2 linked regions of the Homo sapiens genome follow. The protein of the gene in region 1 interacts with the protein of each later gene in a biochemical or structural test. Each region holds a gene or a part of one and is shown in the gene's direction. Other genes may lie near its edges.

Region 1 (7,078 bases):
GGGTTTAATAATACCTCATTCTACTCAAGTAAACTGTATTTTCTTCACAAGATTTCTGTGGATGTTAAATTCTCATTTGAGTCTGAATTATGCTCTTGTGGCTGCTGATGTTAAGCGGTACATTAATTAAACAATTTCTCTTAATTTACTGGGTCATTCAAATTCATAGACATTTCATTTGATTTGAACAATAACTTGTTCACTAGTTTATTGTTATGATTTCCTGCTCAAGATTCTCCAAGGGATTTTTCTTTTTCTGGTTAAATCAACAAGTGATGGATAAGCTGTGAATTTTATCATTTAAATGCAATCTTGCTGTGTATACATAATGGATACTTTTGGTTTGGTTTCTTTTGCTGAACACAATGTCCATGTTGCCCTGTTTATCAGTAGTTTGTTCCTTTTTTATTGCTATGTAGTATTCCATTGTATGAATAGACCATAATTTGTTTCTCTATTCTTCTGTAGAATAGCTTGTTTCCAGCTTTTGATTAGAATGAATAGGGCTGCTCTGTACATTTTTACTCATGCTGTTTGGTGGAATTATCTTCTATATCTTTTAATATCTTTAATCAGGTTTGTTTTAATCACACAAAATTGCCAGCTGAATTTATCTTACCTTGCTTTCCATCCCATATTTATCTTTTTCTGAGTTGGTAATCACTTATAATTCATTTAACTTTGAAAGCTTTGCTTCATGACCCAAGTAGTTTTGGGCCATGAACACAGTTGTGACAAAGTAATAAGAAATATTTGGTGTGTAATTGCTGGAGGGCAATTAGAGGTGGTTTGTGCCCCTTTGTCTGTATAGAATTCTGATGGAATGTCTTCTTCTTCAGAGCTGATATTTGACCCCCTCTCAGACAGCCTTTGACAGAAGGTAGCCACAGTTTCCAACTCCAGTGCCCCCCTGCTCACATTCCTAATCTTTGGAGCTCCTCCCTAGTGTCACCTGCAGAACTGTCACCACCGGCCATCCAGTTGGCTCTCCAGTCCTGCCAGGCTACCTTCAAAGCCTAACAAAGGGAAGAGCACTTGCTTCATTTGTTATAATGGTTACTAACTATATAATGGATCTATATCGTGGTATACATGTGAACATACTTTAAAAATGTTATATGCAGTTAATTACAGTTAATAGTGGGAGTTGTTTTTCTTTAGGAAATTTATATGCTATAATTTAGGAACTCTTCTCAGTGACTAAGATTTTCCTTCTGAAGTATCTGTCATGGGTGCTATTTAAAGATATCTGAATGACAACATCATAAAAGAACAGTGGTCTCCTCTTTCATCAAGGGATACTTCCAAGACCCCCAGTGGATACCTGAAACTATGGATAGTACTGAACCCTACGTATACTGTGTTTTTCCTCTACATTCATGCCTCTGATAAAGTTTAATTTATATATTAGGCACAATAAGATATTGAAAACAATAATCAGAGAAGAGACAATAATAACAATATGGCAACATCACTACTCGTGTACTTCAGGACTATTATTAAGTAAAATAAGGGTGACTTGAATGTAAGCACTGTGATACTGCAATAGTTGATCTGATGACTGAGGTGGCTACTAAGTGACTAACAAGGCAGGGAGTAGACACAGTGTGGAGATGCTGGACGGGGATGGGTTACGTCAGGGGTTATGGATTAGGATGGTGCAAGATTTCGTTATAATACTCAAAACAGCATGCAACTTAAAACTTACGAATTGTCTGTTTCTGCAATTTTTTATTTAATATTTTTGGACAGTGGTTGACTGTGGGTAACTGATACCGTGGAAGGTAAAAGTGTGGATAAGTGGGGACCACAGTATTAGTACATAGCTTTTCTCTTATTATATCACTTGATCGAAATCGTGGTTAATTGGTATAATTTTTGAATTAAAATATTTTCATATTCTATTGGATCATATTATGAGATGTTTAAGATATAGTTTAATAACACATCCCCCTCCTCTTTCAACCATGGAAAAAAGTTACCAAGTATTTACATATAATTCATTTAGTAAATTTCCTCTTTTTTTAAGAAAAGTCTTTTCCTTGTGTTTAAAATGTAAAAATTTTCCTATTTCTTTCTTTCTGTCCTCAAATCCACTGTGGGTGATATCGTTTTTGCTGACACACAGCTTTATCAGGTATGACTCCTAAGTGTCGTGTTGGACTCCACGGATGTATTGTTGAATTTTTCAAAGGAAGAACTTTTCACACTGCCTCTTCTACATTCCCTTGATCAGTATTTAGGAGTATTCTATGATCATTGCTGGGCTTTAAGGTCTAGAGTGGTCTTTGTATTCAAAACAAGTTTGCCACACTTATTACACCTATATTTCAGAAATAATTGTGAGTGTTTTCTTCAAATATATTATTGTTGTGTGTCTCTGGCTTTCTGTATTTTTAATCTATGCATAATTCTCTATGTTTTCCTCTTTTATATGTATAAGTGTTTGTATACACATCTGTGTTATTCTTAACATATATGTTTTTAAAAACAGATATATGTTCTTAACCAGAACTTTCTTTCCTAACCATGATACATATTCCTAACCAGGCTTTTTTCAAACTGTGTTCATGAAATAATATTAATCTGAGATGCTAAGCAAAGTGGCACAAAAATTTTTATCAATAAGTTTATTTTGTTTCTCCCTGAGCAGTTCACAATGCACATTAGCATATTAAAGGCTCTGGTTCCGTGCAGTAAAGAAATTGTTTATCTTTGTTTATCTCAGCATCTTCAAGAAATATTTGAGTTCGAAACACTTCATAATACACAGGGGTGTTCTAAGCCTGCTGATTTGGGAAATGCTGTAAAAAACCGAGTAAGATTTTCTTTGTAGTGTTTTAAGAGATCAAATAAAATTGACTACAAGTGATTAAATTTTCAAGAGGTTAAAGCATTTAGCTGAATTGTATTTTGAGAGGGTATTTTCTTATAGAAATTACATTTTGAAATACAGCATTGGTTTTTTCCCCCATAGTATTATCTTTTTCAATACTTTTGATGGCCTTTAAAAGGCATTTGTAAAACTAAAAATTCTGCCTTTTTGTGGAAAGAGGGTTTTTTTATTTTGTTACTGTCATTCCTTGTTTCTCTTCTATAAGAATTTGCCTTTATCTTTAAAAAACATGCTTACTGTTTCAGAGAGTGTGACGCAGGAAAGGAGGCCTCCCAAACTTGCCTTTATGTCAAGAGGTGTTGGGGACAAAGGTTCATCCAGTCATAATAAACCAAAGGCTACAGGTATGGATTAATAGCATATAACCTTTAGTAATTTGCATAATGCCTAACTTGCCATAGCATTAAAAAAGATTATAAGCTATTACTTCTGAACATGTATGTAGACTTTTTTTCTTTCAAACATTTTTAGTAGTGAAACTAAAGTTTGTATATAAATACTGTTGCTTAAGCCAAGTGTTCCCAGCCTTTTTTACCTCAGGAAGAGTTCCCCATAGGGTCTTGTGTGTTTTGCTGGTCTATAATCAAATGGTTTTTGGAACTCCTTACTTGGAATATTTGTATGTATAGTTTAGGATTGCAACTGTGTAAAATAATCCTATATGGATAATGTTATATAGGATAAAGTATACTAGAGGTTAATTAAATGGATTTTGCTAACTAGATTTGGTACAAATTAAATCCCAAACTGCTAAGCAAAAATTTCTTCTCTTTCCCAGAAGCTTCCTCACAATATGTGTGGAGCTTACAGCTCTTTTTTTTGTTAGCTTCCACATACTTCATAGATTTATAGAATAGTAGTTATACAAGCCAAAGAGCTCATTAAAAAGGCTCTGAGAATTTTTGTTAACTCAGATGCGAGTTAGGAAAAGAATATTTTTTCCTCAATTATTACAATTTTGGCTCATTTAAAAGGAAATTGTACTTTAAGAATTATTTTATGTGACATTGGGGCCTGGGAGACTTAGGATTAATTGCAGGATATATAGGTAACAGTCTTTTTTATGTTAACCTATAGATCTATATAGGATAGCTCAAACTTGCTACTCTCACTTAAATAGAAACAGACTAAAGATTTTCTTAAGCTATGGCATGTTAATTGTATTGTAGTAGATCTTAAAGTTATAAAATGTACAGCTACCTGCTTTAATTTGAAAAGGGAAATCAGCTTTTTTGTGGGTTCTGGAGAGCCCACTGCCCTCCACTGTGTGTGGTATGTCCTTGAATTAATACTGAGGCAGGGTAATGTCATGAAATGGCTGTGGCATAGCTACACTCGCCCTCTCACGTATAATAAATCCAATCTGTAAGAAATAATAGTGCTTGATTTTTTCAAAGACACAAGGAATTTGATGACCAAAAATTCCAAAATGTTTAAAACTTAACTATTTTTAAATGTAATTTGTGTATTGATTTATATATAGAATTTGAGGATTACCTTCTTTTAAAATAATAGGTTAAATTTGTGAACCAATGGGTCTATGAAATGAAGCTGGAGAATGGTGATTTTGACATTTAGAAATAAGCTGTGGTACATGGAACAATTTCTTAAAGCAGTTCATTTTTTTTAAAAATGAGTGGGCTTTTCTTTTAACTTACTCCTGTTTCCCTCCTATCTTGACTTTTGGGCTGAAAAATATTTTTAATATTGTCAAAATGGTTACCAAATTTTTAAAAGCTGAAGACAGTTAAAAAACATATTGTGTTTATATACATTTATTGGTTATGTAAACAGTTATTAACATCATATTCATAATAATTTCTCTTACTAAAAAAAAACTTTGATGCTATATTGACTTTATTTTTAAATGAAACTTTTCTTGTTCCTATAGGATCTACCTCAGACCCTGGAAATAGAAACAGATCTGAATTATTTTATACCTTAAATGGGTCTTCTGTTGACTCACAACCACAATCCAAATCAAAAAATACATGGTACATTGATGAAGGTAATCAGTAATTTTAGTGTTCTTTATAATGATCCTTTCTTTCTAACTCATCAGAGAAAAATGGTTTTTTATATCAATATTTGTAGTTTTTGGAAACAGAATAAGTAGACCGCTCTTTGTAATATTGCTGAACTAAAATATTGTACACAGTTTGAACCGTACTGCTGTTAAGATTATTAAAATGTTTAAGAAATGTATTAGTAATTTGTTCTTTTCCTTTAACTGCTGATCTATTTAGGGTGGAAGATTTCTGTCTGGTTCCTTCCTGACCTCTTTAAAGCACTCCCTTTTAAAAAATTTTATCTTCCCTTGGTCCTGGGACATCATTTTCACCTAGTTTATTCTCTTCTTTGTTCATTTGTTCAACAAATATTTATTGAGTGCTTATGATTGCCAGGCATTCTTTTAGGCATCAAGATGAAAATGGTGAGAAAAAATAGACATGGTTCATGCCCTTTGTGAGTTTGCAGTTGTTAAGTTGTTGAGATAGAAATTAGTCAAACAACCACAGACACAGTAGAGTTGCCTTGGTGGTGTGTGCAGTGAAGGTGCATGATGCTGTGAGAATACACCAAAGATGATTTTTCTCAGGGTCTTAGGGGTGTTTCTTTGGGGCAGTGACACATGCTTAGGTTTACCAGAGGAGTGACAGATGACAAAGTGAAAGGGGCTAGAACTTCCTCGGGAGAAGAAATAGCATAGGGAAAGTCCTCCTGGAAGAATGGAAGCTAGTGTTTGCCAGGGACTAGAACACAGACAGAGGCATGACATTCATGAGATGAGAATGGAAAGGCAAACAGGCCTGACTCTGTGGTCTCCCAGCCTTTAGAGTTTTGCCTGCCACATTTGTTTTTAAGGCACCTGGAGCTGATTTTCATGTAAAGTATGAGTAGGATTCCTGTTTAATTTTTTTTTAAAAATATGGATAACCAATTATCTCAACAGCATTTAGTAAGAAGTTCATTCTTTTGTCATTGATCTGCAATACCTGCCTGTCAGCTGTATTAGTCATTTTAAGAAAATAGCTTTTGGCTGTGGCTCTCTTTATCATGTGTTTGGTTTCTCTTAAATTACATTCTGTGTTTGTGTTTATTCTGGCTTTGAACTTCTTATTGTATGTTTGTTTTCTCTCTTCTGTTGTTTCTGTTCTTTAGTTTATTCTTCTCTACTTTTTTGAGGGTTATTCTGTTCTTTTAACTTCCCAAGTTGTATGCTGAGTTCATATTTAGCTTTTGTTTTTTTCTGAAATAAGCAATGAAGTCTATAAAATTCCCTTATAAGTATTAATTTAGCCATGTTTCACAAGGATTCTTTCTTTCTTTGTTACTTTTTCTCTCTTTTTTCTTTATTGTTAAAACGTATTATTTCTTTTTTGATCCATTAGATATATAGAAGCGTTTCTTAAGGTTTTCGGTATCTTTTTGTACTGCCTTCTCAATTAATTGTATTTTGGACAAAGACTATCACGTATACGATACCCGCTGATAATAGATTTTTTTGGTTTGAACAGTTGGGTGCCATTGACTGAGGTGCATAAATATGGAGGTGGAGAGAGGAGCGAGAACACTGTTGGAGATAATAACTTTGTGATGCCTATGAGAGTACTATTAATAGCAGGGAGGTCAGGTGGGCAGTTGGACTAGATCTGTATATAAATTTTTAGAAATGTAAGACAGAGTCAATATCCTTGAATACATTTCTGTAATTAGGAATAATTTTTTAGTTGCAGAAGACCCTGCAAAATCTCTTACAGAGATATCTACAGACTTTGACCGTTCTTCACCACCACTCCAGCCTCCTCCTGTGAACTCACTGACCACCGAGAACAGATTCCACTCTTTACCATTCAGTCTCACCAAGATGCCCAATACCAATGGAAGTATTGGCCACAGTCCACTTTCTCTGTCAGCCCAGTCTGTAATGGAAGAGCTAAACACTGCACCCGTCCAAGAGAGTCCACCCTTGGCCATGCCTCCTGGGAACTCACATGGTCTAGAAGTGGGCTCATTGGCTGAAGTTAAGGAGAACCCTCCTTTCTATGGGGTAATCCGTTGGATCGGTCAGCCACCAGGACTGAATGAAGTGCTCGCTGGACTGGAACTGGTAATTTAACTTGACCCAAAAATTTCAATTTTTTTCTCTGTGAGGTTTTGTGCAGATTTCGCCCTATTATA
Region 2 (7,562 bases), on another chromosome or scaffold:
AGCTGCTCTGGGCAGGGGGAAAATGTGCTCATCTCAGGAAGCTGGTGTGGATGGTACTGGACCTGGCTAGGCCTGATACTGACCAGCAGATGGGCGCTGTGTTTGTAGCCCCAGAGGTGGTAGGCCGGCAGCGGTATGGACGCCCTGTGGACTGCTGGGCCATTGGAGTCATCATGTACATCCTGTGAGTGGACAGATGGACAAGCAGGCTTGCAGTCAGATGGGGTGGGGGCATGTGTCTGTGGCCTTTCTGTGTGACCCTTCCCCCATGCAGGCTTTCAGGCAATCCACCTTTCTATGAGGAGGTGGAAGAAGATGATTATGAGAACCATGATAAGAATCTCTTCCGCAAGATCCTGGCTGGTGACTATGAGTTTGACTCTCCATATTGGGATGATATTTCGCAGGCAGGTGAGGAGGTGCCTGCCCAGCACTTGGTAGAACGCAAGGGAGTGGGGAGGGTGTCCTGCTCTCATCTTCCTCTGTGGTATTCTGCTTCTGTCCCCCAGCCCATTTATCACCTCTAGACATTGAGATGGGGTGCCCATGACTATCCCCTTCTTGGTTTTGTCCACAGCCAAAGACCTGGTCACAAGGCTGATGGAGGTGGAGCAAGACCAGCGGATCACTGCAGAAGAGGCCATCTCCCATGAGTGGTGAGCAGGGTCCAGGGGAGGGTGGGAGAGGCCAGGGTCCCCCTCACACCCAGCAGCCCCATCTTTGAGGCCTGGAAGGGGTGCAGGTACCTAGAGCTCAGGGCAGCCCAGAGGCTCTGCCTGGTAGTCCCTGGATGCCACATAGAAGGGCTGAGCAGAGTCTCCACAAAGGCTCATTCTCTCAGATCCAGACACACTTGCACCCTTTCCAGGATTTCTGGCAATGCTGCTTCTGATAAGAACATCAAGGATGGTGTCTGTGCCCAGATTGAAAAGAACTTTGCCAGGGCCAAGTGGAAGGTAAGGCTTGGATAACTCCCTTCTTGGCTCTATCCCAAGTATTGCTTCTGGCACTCAGTTTCTTGCCTGCATCACACCCCTGCAGCCACACACAAGCTTTTCTCAGGCCATCAGGTGTGGGTGTAGCCACTGTGATTACCTTAAGTAGGAGTGCTGAGCAGCTGAGTACTTGGCCCTGGGGTGGATGGAGGTGGCCGGGGGTACTATGGAAGGAGTTTGGTTTGGTCACTGCCAAGCAATGGATCCAGCAAGCCTCACCCTTAGCCTTTCTCCACTGTGCTCCTTTCAGAAGGCTGTCCGAGTGACCACCCTCATGAAACGGCTCCGGGCACCAGAGCAGTCCAGCACGGCTGCAGCCCAGTCGGCCTCAGCCACAGACACTGCCACCCCCGGGGCTGCAGGTGGGGCCACAGCTGCAGCTGCGAGTGGAGCTACCTCAGCCCCTGAGGGTGATGCTGCTCGTGCTGCAAAGAGTGATAATGTGGCCCCCGCAGACCGTAGTGCCACCCCAGCCACAGATGGAAGTGCCACCCCAGCCACTGATGGCAGTGTCACCCCAGCCACCGATGGAAGCATCACTCCAGCCACTGATGGGAGTGTCACCCCAGCCACTGACAGGAGCGCTACTCCAGCCACTGATGGGAGAGCCACACCAGCCACAGAAGAGAGCACTGTGCCCACCACCCAAAGCAGTGCCATGCTGGCCACCAAGGCAGCTGCCACCCCTGAGCCGGCTATGGCCCAGCCGGACAGCACAGCCCCAGAGGGCGCCACAGGCCAGGCTCCACCCTCTAGTAAAGGGGAAGAGGCTGCTGGTTATGCCCAGGAGTCTCAAAGGGAGGAGGCCAGCTGAGTAGGCAGCCTGGTGAGGGGGGGCAGGGGATGGGCAGGAGGGTGGGAGAGTGGATGAGGGGCTTCTCACTGTACATAGAGTCACTGGCATGATGCCCTCGCTCCCCCATGCCCCCACATCCCAGTGGGGCATAACTAGGGGTCACGGGAGAGCAGTCTCGTCTCCTGTGTGTATGTGTGTGAGTGGTGGGCAGGCCAGTGGCAGGGCCGGCCCCAGCCCCTGCATGGATTCCTTGTGGCTTTTCTGTCTTTTGCTAGCTTCACCAGTTTCTGTTCCTTGTGGGATGCTGCTCTAGGGATACTCAGGGGGCTCCTGCTCTCCTTCCCCTTCCCTTCTTGCCTCACCATTCCCCTAGGCAGGCCCTGCAGGTCCCACACTCTCCCAGGCCCTAAACTTGGGCGGCCTTGCCCTGAGAGCTGGTCCTCCAGCGAGGCCCTGTCAGCGGTCTTAGGCTCCTGCACATGAAGGTGTGTGCCTGTGGTGTGTGGGCTGCTCTAGGAGCAGATACAGGCTGGTATAGAGGATGCAGAAAGGTAGGGCAGTATGTTTAAGTCCAGACTTGGCACATGGCTAGGGATACTGCTCACTAGCTGTGGAGGTCCTCAGGAGTGGAGAGAATGAGTAGGAGGGCAGAAGCTTCCATTTTTGTCCTTCCTAAGACCCTGTTATTTGTGTTATTTCCTGCCTTTCCGAGTCCTGCAGTGGGCTGCCCTGTACCCTGAACCTCATGAGCCTCTAAGGGAAAGGAGGAACAATTAGGACGTGGCAATGAGACCTGGCAGGGCAGAGTACAAGCCCAGCACCCAGTGTCCCAGCCTTACTGGGTCCTTACCCTGGGCCAAACAGGGAGGGCTGATACCTCCTTGCTCTTCCTAGATGCCCACCTCCTACAATCTCAGCCCACAAGTCCTCTCCACCCTAGGGGGCTTGCTGCATGGCAATAACTCATAATCTGATTTGGAGGTTTGCCCTTTACAGGGGCAGATTTTCTGCTCAGTTCAACAATGAAATGAAGAGGAACTCCCTCTTTCTACAGCTCACTTCTATCAGAGGCCCAGGTGCCTCAGAGCCACATTGAGTTGCTTTTTCTGGGATGAGGAAGTAGGGTTAAACTCCCCAGTTTCCTGAGGGAGGCTCCTGACAGGTGCCCTTTGTCAGACCCTACCACAGCCTGGATAGGCAGCCACATTGGTCCTCGCCCTTGCTCGGCACTCCGTGGTGGTCCTGCCCTTCTCCCTGCATGCCTGTGGGTCTGCTCTGGTGTGTGAAGGTCGGTGGGTTAACTGTGTGCCTACTGAACCTGGCAAATAAACATCACCCTGCAAAGCCTCTGGCCACCCTCTCGCCTTTGCTTCCTCTGTCCTACTGGGGAGGAGCCCCTGGAAGGCAGTGGGGAAGGGAGAGGCTGGGAGCAGGTTCACAAGTAGTGGCTGGGAGTAGTAGTGAACAGTGCCCTGTGGATTTCTTGGGCTGAGGGTGAAGATCATCCTCACCACAGTGTATTCCTCAATGGTGGTGGTGGTGGGGGTCCTCTGAACTCTAGAAATCCATGTGAGTAGTGGGTCTTGGGCTGCATTTGGACCAAGGAATACTCCCTGGGCTGAGAGCTCAAGTAAGGGCTGCTGTTTTTGACTCCTGTTGACCGAGGAGCCTTACTCTTGATTTAGGCATAGAGCTGGAATCTACCTGGGCCAGCCACCGCAAGGACAGACCCTGCTCATAGCCAAAGATAGCTTCCCTGAGCTAGGGAGAGGGTGTAGGGTGAGCAATGCACAAAGATTCTATGCTGCTCTGTGTTGATTCCTTCTTTCTGTGAACACCTGTGCTTTCCACCTATGCCCCAAATGAAATCTCACTCTGGGTCTATTTCAGCTGGAGCAGATCAGCTTTATATTATGGGACTATGCACAGGGTTTCTTCTGGGTAGAGGGAGTAACACTGCCACAGATACTAAGCCTAAAAACCCAAAAGTTGACTTACTCCAGCCCAGGTGGGCCTGGGTGAACTCACCAGGGATGCTGCTCTCTGGGAGGACCTCAAAGATAACCTCCTCAAAGATAACTTCTCTGATGTGGGAATAATAAAAAGGATTTGTTAGTCTCTAGTCTTTGAAGCATCTGGGCCTCCAAAATTCCAACCCTACTACAGTCTCAAGCATAACTGATCCTCCTGAGAGCTAAGAGCTAAAGTCAGGGTACTGGCCCTAGTGTCTCCAAACTCAAGGATAGTCATATCTTACTTGGATGAAGCCAAGGTTGGCCTGGGGTGACCTGAGGGACTGGGGCCTATGTGTCCATCTTTCTAGAATCGCCCGGAACTGAGGACTGAGAGGGTAGGGTATTGTGGTCTATGGGAACTACAGACCATAGCGCATGGTCCATCACTGTCCAGAGCCCAAGGGACCCATCGGGACCATTGTTCTATTCCCTTGCGGCTGCGGTTTTCTCTGCCTTGGCCCAGCCTGCCTCGCGCCAGCTCTGGCATGGGACCACAATGCGCTGCCTTGCCCTGGAAAAGGGTCCAGCTGGCAGCCTCGCTGCTCCCCGCCTTGATATAATGCTGCGCTCTCAAGTGGCAGGTCGAGTCTCCCCAGAGGACGCCTGAGAGCGACCGCGCTCCGCCCAGGATTCTCTACGGCCTCGGGGCCGCTAAGCCCCGCCCATAGTTCCGCCCATCCGAGAATTTGTCCAATCCAGGCGAAGTATTCACGCTCCGCCCAAAGTTTTGTGTTGTCACTTCCGGCCCGCTCCAGGAAGTCGTGCTGCGGAGCCAAATTTGAAGCAAGCGGAGGCGCGGGGGCGCGTCTACGAAGCCGGACCTGTAGCAGTTTCTTTGGCTGCCTGGGCCCCTTGAGTCCAGCCATCATGCCTATCCGTGCTCTGTGCACTATCTGCTCCGACTTCTTCGATCACTCCCGCGACGTGGCCGCCATCCACTGCGGCCACACCTTCCACTTGCAGTGGTGAGTGACTGCAGTGTTGGGGCCCGGTGTTTGCCCGGGTACCGCTTCAGGGCCTTGAGGTGTTGGGCCTCCAGGCGGTCCAACCCCGGAATCCAGACAAGTGATGAGAACCTTCCTCCTAGACGAGGCCCCACGGGAGCTTCCCAACCTGGGCAGAAGTGGGTCAGGACAGGCTTTCTGGTAGAGGTGATAGCTGAGCTAAGCCTGAGGGGGACTAAGATGGCTCAGTGAAGATAGATGCTTCCTTGATCACCTATACAAACAGATGTGATTTCAAAACCGTTAGCCTGGGCAAGGGTGAGCTTTCACCACATCAACAAGTCCTTTTATTTCTTCCAGATAGAAACCTGCTAGGCTTCTGGCTACCCAAGAGAGTTTGCTGTGCCTTACTTGATGGTTTGGAATTATTCTACCCAGAGTCATCTCACTGTCCAGACACCCCAATGTATTCGCCATGTCAGCAAACCCGTTTAACATGGGGAAGGCAAGGAGATGCTCCCCTATCCAGGGGTCCTGCTGACCGTGTAGGGCCATTCTGTTGAGTGTACAGCTAGTGGGGAAAGATTCCCCTAGCAGATGTGGACAGGCCGGTTTGGACCTCCTAGCAAAAGAGATAAGGCAGCGTTACCCCTGGGAATGGTGGGTGATAATAATCACAGGGTCTTGTGGGGCTAAAGGCCCTAGGAAGCAGAAAGGCAGGCATGACACTGATGGCTGCTGGCTTACTTGCAAAGCTTTGTTTAGGCCTGTGTTGCTGACAGCCTGAGCCCCATGCTGAGGGAGCCACTGCTGTTTGGTTAGACTAGAAATTAAGCTCGCCTCTAAGCGTACTCTATTTTCTGTTTGCCTACTCTATTTTCTTCTATCCTTTTACTTTATTTATTTATTTTTATTTTATTTTATTTTTGAGATGGAGTCTCGCTCCTGTCGTGTAGGCTGGAGTGCAGTGGCGTGATCTCGGCTCACTGCAACCTCCACCTCCTGAGTTCAAGTGATTCTCCTTCCTCAGCCTCCCAAGTAGCTGACATTACAGGCGTGCGCCACCACGCCCAGCTAATTTTTGTGTTTTTCATAGACAGGGTTTCTCCATGTTGGCCAGGCTGGTCTCGAACTCCTGACTTCAGGTGATCCACCCACCTTGGCCTCTCAAAGTGCTAGGGCCTATCCTTTTACTTTAAACTTTTCTGTGTCCTTGTGTTTTACATGTATCCCTTGAAACAGCATTTATTTCTTTTTTTGTATATTAAAAAGTACTTTAGCTTACTGCAAAGATCTTTATTTTATTTTATTTTGAGACAGGGTCTCACTCTGTTACACAGGCTGCAGTGCAGTGGTGCCATCTCGGCTCACTGCAGCCTCTACCTCCTGGGCTAAGGTGATTCTCCCATCTTAGCCTCCCAAGTAGCTGGGACTACAGGCGCCTGCCACCATGCTTGACTATTTTTTTTTTTTTGTATTTTTAGTAGAGATGGGGTCTTGCTATGTTGCCCAGGCTGGTCTTGAACCCCTGGACTCAAGTAATCCACCCACCTCTGCCTCCCAAAGTGCTAGGATTACAGGTGTGAACCACCGCACCCAGCCTTGGAAAACAACATTTAGTTGGACTTTTAAAAATCCAGTCTGATAATCTTTGTATTTAACTGGACCATTTAGTCTACTTAAAATTGTTGCAATTACTGATTAAATAAAGAGTAAACATATTGTCTTTAGTCGATTCTGTTTTGCCTTGCCTATTATATCTTATTGTCTCCTTTCTTGCCTTGGTAGGAATTGGTTAAATATTCTGTATTTCTCCATTTTTCCCTCAGTTAGTTGGGTCGTTATATACCCCATTTCCATTTATAAGTGGTTATCCTAGAAATTAAGGTATGTATCCTTAACTTACCAATTTCAAGGTTAATCAACACCTTTCTCATTTTCCCAGGCAACTCAAAGAGCTTAGAATACTAACATTCTTTTCCCACTTCTACGTTATTGTTGAATATTTTAATTGTGTGTATGTGTGGTATTTTTTTCGTTGGTGTTATTTTTGAGACAGAGTCCTGCTCTCTTGCCCAAGCTGGTCTGCAGTGGTACAATCTCTGCTCACTGCAGCCTTGACCTCCTGGACTCAAGCGATCCTCCTGCCTCAGCCTCACAACTAGCTGGGACTACAGGTGCATGTCACCATGCCCAGCTAATTTTTGTTTTTTGTAGAGACAGGATTTCGCCATGCTGCCCAGGCTGGTTTGAAACTCCTGTACTCAAGTGATCCACCCTCCTTGGCCTGCCAAAGTGCTGGGGTTTACAGGCATGAGCCACCACGACCGGCCAATTGTATGTTTTTAAGTAAAGTTTTTGTTTGGAATAATTTTTTTTTTTTTTTGAAACAGGATCGTGCTGTGTCGCCCAGGCTGGAGTTTATAATTGTTTCTTCTTGCAGGATTGAACTTTTTTTAAATGTTCTTCTTTGTCCTTCTTTGTCTCTTGTAACTTTAATTCAAAGTCTGTCTTGCCTAATTTTTTTTTTGAGATGGAGTCTCGTTCTGTGGCCCAGACTGGAGTGCAGTGGCGCAATCTTGGCTCACTGCAACCTCTGCCTCTTGGGTTCACGTGATTCTCCTACCTCAGCCTCCCGAGTAGCTGGGATTACAGGCACACACCACTGTGCCTGGCTAATTTTTTTTGTATTTTTAGTAGAGGCAGAGTTTCACTATGTTGGCCAGACTGGTCTCAAACTCCTGACCTCGTGATCCGCCCACCTCGGCCTCCCAAAGTGCTGGGATTACAGGCGTGAGCTACCGTGCCTGGC

Evidence for each region.
Region 2: the proteins of CYLD (region 1) and TRAIP interact in far-western blotting, tested with the Homo sapiens proteins (one study listed by BioGRID).

The regions. Positions count from the first base shown.
Region 1 is NC_000016.10:50,773,038-50,780,115, forward strand, and holds part of CYLD (ubiquitin carboxyl-terminal hydrolase CYLD), read left to right. Parts: intron 1-2,128; coding exon 2,129-2,137; intron 2,138-3,141; coding exon 3,142-3,240; intron 3,241-4,787; coding exon 4,788-4,904; intron 4,905-6,627; coding exon 6,628-7,007; intron 7,008-7,078. UniProt on the Homo sapiens protein: Deubiquitinase that specifically cleaves 'Lys-63'- and linear 'Met-1'-linked polyubiquitin chains and is involved in NF-kappa-B activation and TNF-alpha-induced necroptosis.
Region 2 is NC_000003.12:49,853,565-49,861,126, reverse strand, and holds the start of TRAIP (E3 ubiquitin-protein ligase TRAIP), read left to right. Parts: upstream 1-4,562; 5' UTR 4,563-4,673; coding exon 4,674-4,771; intron 4,772-7,562. Other genes in the region: CAMKV (caM kinase-like vesicle-associated protein), read left to right, coding at 109-184, 275-411, 578-656, 869-956, 1,246-1,809. UniProt on the Homo sapiens protein: E3 ubiquitin ligase required to protect genome stability in response to replication stress.